3 separate regions of the Homo sapiens genome follow, and all the other regions are linked to region 3. Evidence: fine-mapped expression QTL. A gene starts in region 3. Each other region holds a variant in brackets. All regions are shown on one strand. Distances are from middle to middle. Region 1 has its middle 45 kb from the start of ASCL2. Region 2 overlaps SLC67A1 (solute carrier family 67 member 1). Region 3 holds the start of C11orf21 (chromosome 11 open reading frame 21).

The links.
Region 1: its variant is fine-mapped to the expression of C11orf21 in whole blood (INTERVAL, PIP 0.91).
Region 2: its variant is fine-mapped to the expression of C11orf21 in lymphoblastoid cells (GTEx, PIP 0.97).

What each region holds. Positions count from the first base shown.
Region 1 is chr11:2,224,319-2,227,116 of GRCh38, forward strand. No RefSeq gene overlaps it. Among named protein-coding and RNA genes, the nearest start is that of ASCL2, 45 kb to the right of the region's middle. The variant A/G (reference allele first, on the strand shown) is at 1,388.
Region 2 is chr11:2,908,429-2,911,226 of GRCh38, forward strand. It overlaps SLC67A1 (solute carrier family 67 member 1), which reads left to right. Exons shown (of 11, transcript NM_002555.6): 4 at 768-928; 5 at 1,150-1,282. Among named protein-coding and RNA genes, the nearest start is that of SLC67A1-AS, 6.3 kb to the left of the region's middle. The variant A/G (reference allele first, on the strand shown) is at 1,181.
Region 3 is chr11:2,300,919-2,303,582 of GRCh38, forward strand. It overlaps C11orf21 (chromosome 11 open reading frame 21), which reads right to left and starts at 1,000. Exons shown (of 4, transcript NM_001329958.2): 1 at 838-1,000. The coding sequence starts at 890. TSPAN32 (tetraspanin 32) reads left to right here and starts at 1,095. Exons shown (of 10, transcript NM_139022.3): 1 at 1,095-1,297; 2 at 1,926-2,040. The coding sequence starts at 1,232.

The sequences.
Region 1 (2,798 bases), 77 kb before region 3:
AACCAGAACAGAGCAACCAAAAACTGAGGGAAATTTAAAAAATGTAACATACTTGTAGTTGGAATACCAGAAAGAGAAGAAAAAAGGAATGGAGCAGAAGAGATGTTTGCAGTTATAATGGCTTAGAACTTGGCAAAATTAATGATAGACATCAAACCACAGATCCAGGAAGCTCAGAGAACACCAAGCAGAATTTTTTAAACATTAAAAAACCCTCAACTACACATAGACATATTATATTTAATCTGAGAAGACCTAAGACAACAAGAATTCTTGAAAGACACAAAAGGAAAAATACCGCATTACCTAGAGAGAAATATGGATAAGAATTACAATGACCTCTTGTCCGAAAACTGCAAGCAAGAAGACAATCAGATGAAATAATTAAAGTGTTGAAAGACATATACTACCAACCTAGAATTCTATATCCAGTTTTATATATATGTGTGTGTGTGTATATACATACATGTATGTATATGCACATATATGTATATATACACATGTGTATATGTGTGTGTATGTGTGCATATATATTTACATATAATTTTTAAATTATATAAAAATGATTTTTAAAGCCCTGAGAGGAACAAGGGCCACAAGTATGTTCAAAGTGTTGATGATACATGTGTCCTGCAATTCACATTAATTCTCACAGCTCTTAGGCTATCATTAAAAAAAATTTTTTTTCAGCATCAGTCTCACTCTGTTGCCCAGGCTGGAGTGCAGTGGTGTGATCATAGCTCACTGCAGCCTTGACCTCCTGGACTTTGAAATCCTCCTGCTTCAGCCTCCCAAGTAGCTAGGACTATAGATGTGCTGCACCACACCTGACAATGTTTTTATTTTTTATTTCTGTAGAGATGAGGTCTCACTATGTTGCCCTGGCTAGTCTTGAACTCTGGGGATGAAGTGATCCTCCTGCCTCTGCCTCCCAAAGTGCTGGGATTATGGGTGTTAGCCATTGCACCCAGCCTATATACAGTGATAGGCTGGGTGAAGAGAAAGTAAAGACTTTTGCAGACAAACAAAAATGGAAGGAATTTATCACCAGATCTGCCCTACAAGAAATGCTGGGATTACAGGTGTGAGCCACCACACCCGAATGAAATGTTAAGATTCTTTTTTAGACAGAGGAAAATTATAGGTCAGAAACTTGAATCTGCATAAAGAGAAAAGGAGCATCAGAGAAGGAATAAATGAAGGTAAAAGTAAGATCTTTTCTTATTCTAAATCAATGTAATGATAACTATTTGTTTCAAATAATATTAGTAAGAATGCATTGGGTTATTACAGCATATGGGTAAGTAAAATAAATGACAAGCATTATAAGGGATGGGAGGAGGAATCGGGACTTTATATAGTTTGGTATTTGTTCCCTCCAAATTTC[A/G]TGTTGAAATGTGATCCTCAATGTTGGAAGTTGGGCCCAGTGATAGGTGTTTTGGTCATGGGAGTGGATCCCTCATCAATGGCTTGGTGCCCTCTCTGCAGCAGTAAGTTTATGTGAAAGCTGTTTATTTAAAAGGGTCTGGCACCTCTCTTGCTTCCTCTCTTGCCATGTGACATGCCTGCTCCCTCTTTGCCTTCTGCCAAGGGTAAAACCTTCCTGAGGCCTCACCAGAAGCAGATGATGACATCATGCTTCTTATACAGCCTGCAGAACTATTAAACCTCTTTACTTTATCAATTACCCAGTTTCAGGCATTCCTTTATAGCAATGCCAAATGGACTAACACAGGACTTATCTGTGCTACTAATGAAGTGAAATGGTGTTATTTGGAGATGGACTTAGGTAAATTTAAAATGTATATTGTAAATGCTAAGGTAATCACTGTTTATCTGTTTATCAACAGAATAAACAGAAAACCTACAGAATGGGGGAGATATTCTCAAACTATGTATCTGACAAAAGTCTAATGTCCAGAATCTATAAGGAACTTAAACAATTTGATGAGTGAAAAACAAATAACCCCATTAAAAAATGGGCAAAATTGGCTGGGCGCGGTGGCTCATGCCTGTAATCCTAGCATGAGGATTTGGGAGGCCGAGGTGGGCAGATCACGAGGTCAGCAGATCGAGACCATCCTGGCTAACACGGTGAAACCCCATCTCTACTAAAAATACAAAAAATTAGCCGGGCATGGTGGCAGGCGCCTGTAGTCCCAGCTACTCAGGAGGCTGAGGCAGGAGAATGGCATGAACCCGGGAGGCGGAGCTTGCCGTGAGCGGAGATTGCACCACTGCAGTCCAGCCTGGGCAACAGAGTAAGACTCCGTCTCAAAAAAAAAAAAAAATGGGCAAAATTCAATAACAAATACATCTCAAAAGAAGACATACAAATGGCCAAGAAACATGAAAAAATGCTCACCATCACTAATTACCAGAGAAATGTAAATCAAAACCATAATAAGATACCATCTCACATCAGTCAGAATGGCTATTATTAAAAAGTCAAAAAATAACAGATAACGGCAAGGCTGCAAAGAAAAGGAACACTTATATACTGTTGATCAAAATGTAAATTAGTTCAGCCACTGTGGAAAGCAGTTTGAAGATTTCTTAAATAACTTAAAACAGAACTACCATCCCAGGCAACAGTCCCATTACTGGTTATATACCCAAAGAAAAACTAATCATTCTACCAAAAAGTCACACGCATTCATATGTTCACTGTAGCATGATTCACAATAGCAAAGACATGGAATCAACCTAAGTGCCCATCAAGGGTAGATTAGATAAAGAAAATGCGGTACATATACACTATGGAATACTACACAGCCATAAAAAAGAACAAAATCATG
Region 2 (2,798 bases), 610 kb after region 3:
GGACCCCCCTGGGATGACGGCACTCCTGTGTCACAGGCCGATGGGGGTGCAGAAGAACTTTGGCCCCTGGTAGGCTCCCGGGTGTCCCACCCACGCCTTCCACTACTCCTGCCTGTGGCCAGAGAGAGAGTGTGACTGGTGAACACCTCGTGGCTGTAAGCACCAGCCCGTAGGCCTGCCGAGACCAGGCAGGAGGGACTTTGGGGGCTCCATACACCCCGGGTCTCAGTGCTGTGGGAACACTGAGCTTGAGAGAGGACAGGGACATCCTCCCACAAGCCACAGCAGACAGGGGAGCAAGGGACACGTATTGGGAGTTGCCTCTTCAGAGCAACCCGTAGGCAGAAATGAAGGGTTCCGCAGGCAGCAGACCAGCAGCGATCTCTGGGAGGGTTTCCAGTGGCCCAGAACAGAAGGGAGAAAGGCGCTGCTTTCTCAGACCCAACCTGACAAACGCCTTCTGTAAAACGCGGGCCCACCCTTTGGTCCCCTGGGATTCCACCATTTATTTTTACACGGAGTTGGTCTTTGCCCTGGGTCAGACTCCCAGCTCAGTGAAGCTGTCTGCGCACAGCCCCACTGGGACGCTGGGGAAACTGAGGCCCTGAGAGGAGGGAGGCCTCCCAGCAGCCGCCCAGGCGCCCCCGCCCTCCATCCCCATCCCGCACTCCAGCCTCCCTGGTCAGCCCCGCCTGGGCAGCCCCTGGACGGGGGGAAGGGGACACTGACCGCCTCCGTGAGGGTCCGACCCGCCCCTCGGCCCCCAGGTTCGCAGACCAGCGCGGGGCGCGGGCGGCGCTCACGCTCTCCTTCCTGGCTGCCTTGGCGCTCTACCTGCTCCTGGCGGCCGCCTCCAGCCCGGCCCTGCCCGGGGTCTACCTGCTCTTCGCCTCGCGCCTGCCCGGAGCGCTCATGCACACGCTGCCAGGTAGGGCCGGGGGGACTGGAGTCCAGGTGGGGCCGGGTCGGGGGCAGCCTGCGGAGGACCCGGGACACCTCCAGGGAGGTCTGCGTGCGCGCGGGGTCTGGCCCTAAGGGCTGGACGGGGGTGGGGGGCGACGTGGGGCGTGGCTTGTGGAGGGGCGGGTCAGGGGGGGAAGGGCCCCACCGAGGGGCTTTCGCCGCTCAGCTCCCCCGCCCCGTCCCCAGCCGCCCAGATGGTCATCACGGACCTGTCGGC[A/G]CCCGAGGAGCGGCCCGCGGCCCTGGGCCGGCTGGGCCTCTGCTTCGGCGTCGGAGTCATCCTCGGCTCCCTGCTGGGCGGGACCCTGGTCTCCGCGTACGGGTGAGTGGTGGGGGCCGGGGCGGAGTCTGTGGGTCAGGACGCCCGCGGCTGGGTCGGCCCCGCCCCGCCTCCTCTTGGCCTCGGTTTCCTCTTTTGCTCGTGGGGCGCGAGTGGCCACGTGATGTGGCTACTGGGGACGTCTGGCCCCGCGCGAGGCCTAGGCCTGACCTCCCGGGCTGGCTGGCCCTGGATAGGGCCAGGTGATGTCCCAGTGCTGTCCGGGGCGCGACTGGACTGCCAAGCTGTCCACGCACAGCCCCACTGGGACGCTGGGGAAACTGAGGCCCTGAGAGGAGGGAGGCCTCCCAGCAGCCTCCTGCTGGGGACAGGAGCACCCTGGGACTGGGATGCTGTGGCAGCGGGGCTGAGCTGTTGGACGGTGCCCAGAGCACACCTCCCTCTCCGGAGGTCTCTAGGGCTGTGCTGCCGGCCTTGTTTGAGTCCCCGAACGTTCTCCCAGCATTTTCACTGGAGCCTGGGCTGGGGACTGATGGCTGCTGATGGCTGTGAGCAGGAGGTGGAGTGGGGTGGGGTGGGTAGTTTGAACACCTCAACATTGCCCCCAGGACTCTGGTTCTAGAATACAGCGGCAGACAACACAGGCTGAGTCCCTGGGATGAAGGGAATGTGATAGGAATTCCCGTAACATCAGGCTGAGCTACATGGAGCAAAAAGTCACAAAGTAGAACTGGGGGCTCGATGGATGGGATCACTAGGGCCTGTCTGAGGAGGCGGCATCTGAGTCGAGGCCTGAAGCAGGAGAGGGAGGCAAAGAAACCACGGTGCAGAGGCCCTGGGTGTGGAAGCCAGGGGGCCGTGTGGCTGGAGGGAGGAAGAAGGGGCAGGCACCAGGCCGGGGTGCCCTGGGTGGCACAGCAGGGGTGAGAATGGGGGGTGAGCTCCCCTGCAGGGAGACCGGTAGGACAGCCATTGTGCCGGCCGAGGTGGGGGAGGACAGTGGCTGGACCAGAGGGGACCGTGATGAGAGAAAGCAGAGGGTAGATTCTGGCTGGGTTTTGCCAGTGGGTGGGATGTGGGTGGGAACTCAAGATGGCAGTGCCAAGGCCGTGCCTGACCCTGGGGAGCCTGGCGCCTTGCGCAGAGGCCCAAGCAGCCTGGGGTGCCACTGGGATTTGGGTCTTGTTCAGGCCCAGCCTGGGTGCCTGTCAGGCACTCCAGGGAGCTACTGAGTAGGCACCCAGATAAGGGGGAGAAATGGGGTGCATCTTCAAGTGTGGATGGCTCGGAGCCCTGCGCCCCCCAGCACTTCATGTTTCGGGGCTGGGAGGTGAGGAGGGAGCACGTCCTGGGAGCCAAGGGCCACTGGATTTGTGGGGGTCAGGGACCCGTGCCTCTACCGCTGGTGGCCAAGGAAGCCACAGTGGCCCACCATCTGCAGCAGGGAGGCCACCCCAGTGCTGGACCAGCACCACCCCCTCAAGTCAGTGCCAGCCGCAGAAGCCTCATGCAATAGACGGATCAAGGGAAATGGGGAGAAAAGAGAGGGGGTCGGGAA
Region 3 (2,664 bases):
GCCACACCTAGGCCCCCAGCTGAAGTGACACTGTGGGTGCCAGGCATCTGAGGTCTCCACAAGCCCCCACAGACTCAGGGTGGGAATTCCTGGGGGCCAGAGCTGCAGAGGGTGCTGCCTGGGGGTGCTGGGCTGGACGGGGGTCCTGGTTGTCCCTCCTGGTTCTCCTGGTTCTCCCTCCGCAGAGGGAGGGAGGCGGTGGCCTCAGCAGTTCCTCCAGCAGCGTTCCTGAGCGGGCGGCAGCTGGGCCCTCTTCCCACAGCCACGCTGGGGTTGCCATGCCTGCAGGTCTTGGGGCCCCCTCCCCCTTGATGAGGTCCTGACCAAATGCAGGAGGAGCAATTCCAGCACCGAGGGGCGAGCAGAGCCGCCTGTTAGCACTCCTGGGAGGGCCCGGAGTGGTCCCTGAATGATGGATTCACCTGGAACATTTTCACCCTCTTCAGGCCCACCCTGCCCCAGAGGCCCACGGAAACCCTGCCTGTACTGGGGCCGCAGCGCTGCCCCCACCCATACGTAATTACACGGCTCGGTGTAATTGCAAATTCGAGGTTTACAAAGCCTCCCCCTGGAGGCCCCACGTGAGTGTGAGCGAGGCCCCAGCCCACCCCTGTGGCCCCAAGAAGGCTCTGCGACAAAATATCCATGAGTGCCGCCCACGAAGGCATTAAAACCAACGACCTTCTCAAAACTTAAGCTGTCACAGGACATTTCAAAGGGTGTTTCCTAAGAACACCTCAATAATGATGTTCCAAGGAGACCCCATCCAAATTCCTCCAAGGATTACGCCCCCAAGGCCCAGTCCACACTTGCTCACTCCCAGGACGGGGAGCTCACCTCCTCCTCCCCGGGCGCCGTCTCCTCCACATCCCACACCAGGTCCTGCCCATGACTTTCCCCCTCTCAGCGCCGTCCTCAGTGGCCACACCAAGAACGAGGCCATGTCTTCCTGGGAAGGGCCTCAGATGTCAGCAAATGCCCTGGTGTCTTGGGCTGGGCTGGGGGCACCAGGGTGAGGTGGTGGGGGGAGCCAACCTCACTGCCCCTCCCCTTCCTGCCTGCCCTTCTTCCGGGGCACCCAGCAGCTCGGTCCTAGGGCGATGTTGACAGACAGACAGAGGGGCGGATGCAGCCTACCTCCTGGGCAGTGAGCTGCGGTCTGAGGCCCCTGCCCAGCTGGAAACCACAGGGAGGGGAAGGGAGGGGAGGAGAGGAGAGGAGAGGAACCGTCATGGGGCCTTGGAGTCGAGTCAGGGTTGCCAAATGCCAGATGCTGGTCACCTGCTTCTTTATCTTGGTAACAGGCAGGTCGGGCAGGAGTGGGTGGTGGGTGGGGGTGAGCAGGGGTGAGGGGTGGCAGGGCCTCAGCACAGGGATTATCCCTCCCCTGACACACACACCAGCCCTACTGTCCCTGTCCTGCCCTTGCAGACATGTGTCCTGCCCTTGCAGACAGCCGCAGGCAGGCAGGGACCACCATGAGCAACCCCGTCTCTCCTCCTGAGGGGCAGCACAGAGCCTGGAGGAGGCCTGAGTGGGGCTGAGGCCTGGGGCGAGCTGGGGTGGAGGGGCACTGGCTGCCGGGCTCCAGGGATCTTCTCCCCTTCCTGCCCCGGAGGGTGCTGGCACAGGGGTGGGGCTCACTCCCACTCCGTAGACACAATGATCAGAGGTCCTGGGTGTCTGGGGAAGCTGGGCTGTGCGTGTATGCGTCTACCATGTGGGGGTGCCTGTGAGTGTGCTGGGGCGTCTGCAGTGAAGGCCTCCTGAGACCACTCCACGGAAACACCGGGAATCCCTGCAGCTGAGCCTGTCTCTCACGGGACCGGGAAGCTGGAGAGAGCCCCAACCCTGCCCGCTGGGGCCGAGCTCCCTGCTCCTGCAGCAGTCCCATGCCCCACACTCTGAGTCTGCCCTATCCACAGCTGCTGGGCCTCTCTGTGGCCACCATGGTGACTCTTACCTACTTCGGGGCCCACTTTGCTGTCATCCGCCGAGCGTCCCTGGAGAAGAACCCGTACCAGGCTGTGCACCAATGGGGTAAGTGAGGTCCAGGCCTGGCTGCATCGGGAGGGGCCTCGGGTGCAAGGGTGGCTGGCACGAGCCCAGCTGGACGCCTCACAGCCAGAATGGTGCCAGGCCCTAGGCAGGAGCCAGAGGTGGTCAGGGGCAGGGAGGGGCTGCCCTGGAGTCCTAGCTCCCCTGGGCAGGGCCTCGGGTCTGGGTGACAGCCAGTGTTCCTGCCTGGTTCTCGTGCCCCACAGGAGCGTGGGCACAGTGTGGGTATATGTCGGGCAGGGTCAGGAAGTGGCTCTGTGCGGTCAGGACCTGGCTCTGTGCAGTCAGGGCTCAGTCCCAGGCAGGCCTGGGACTGGCCTGGGGCTGGGCACAGCAGGTCCATGAGGGCTCCACATGGCTGATGTTCCACTCAGGACCTGGGATGTGGGTGGGGAGGGGGTGGGGGCTGCTCTAGCCAGACGCCTCCCTGCAGGGACTCAGCAGCGACTTATCCAACATCCAGAGAGCGGGAGCGAGGGCCAGAGCCTGCTGGGGCCACTCAGGGGTAAGGCTGAGGAAGGCCCCTTTAATGAGGGGATGTCAGAGCCAGATCTGCAGGGGACTCTCAGGCAGGAGCTCAGGGGGCCCAGGAAGGCTGCAGCCCGG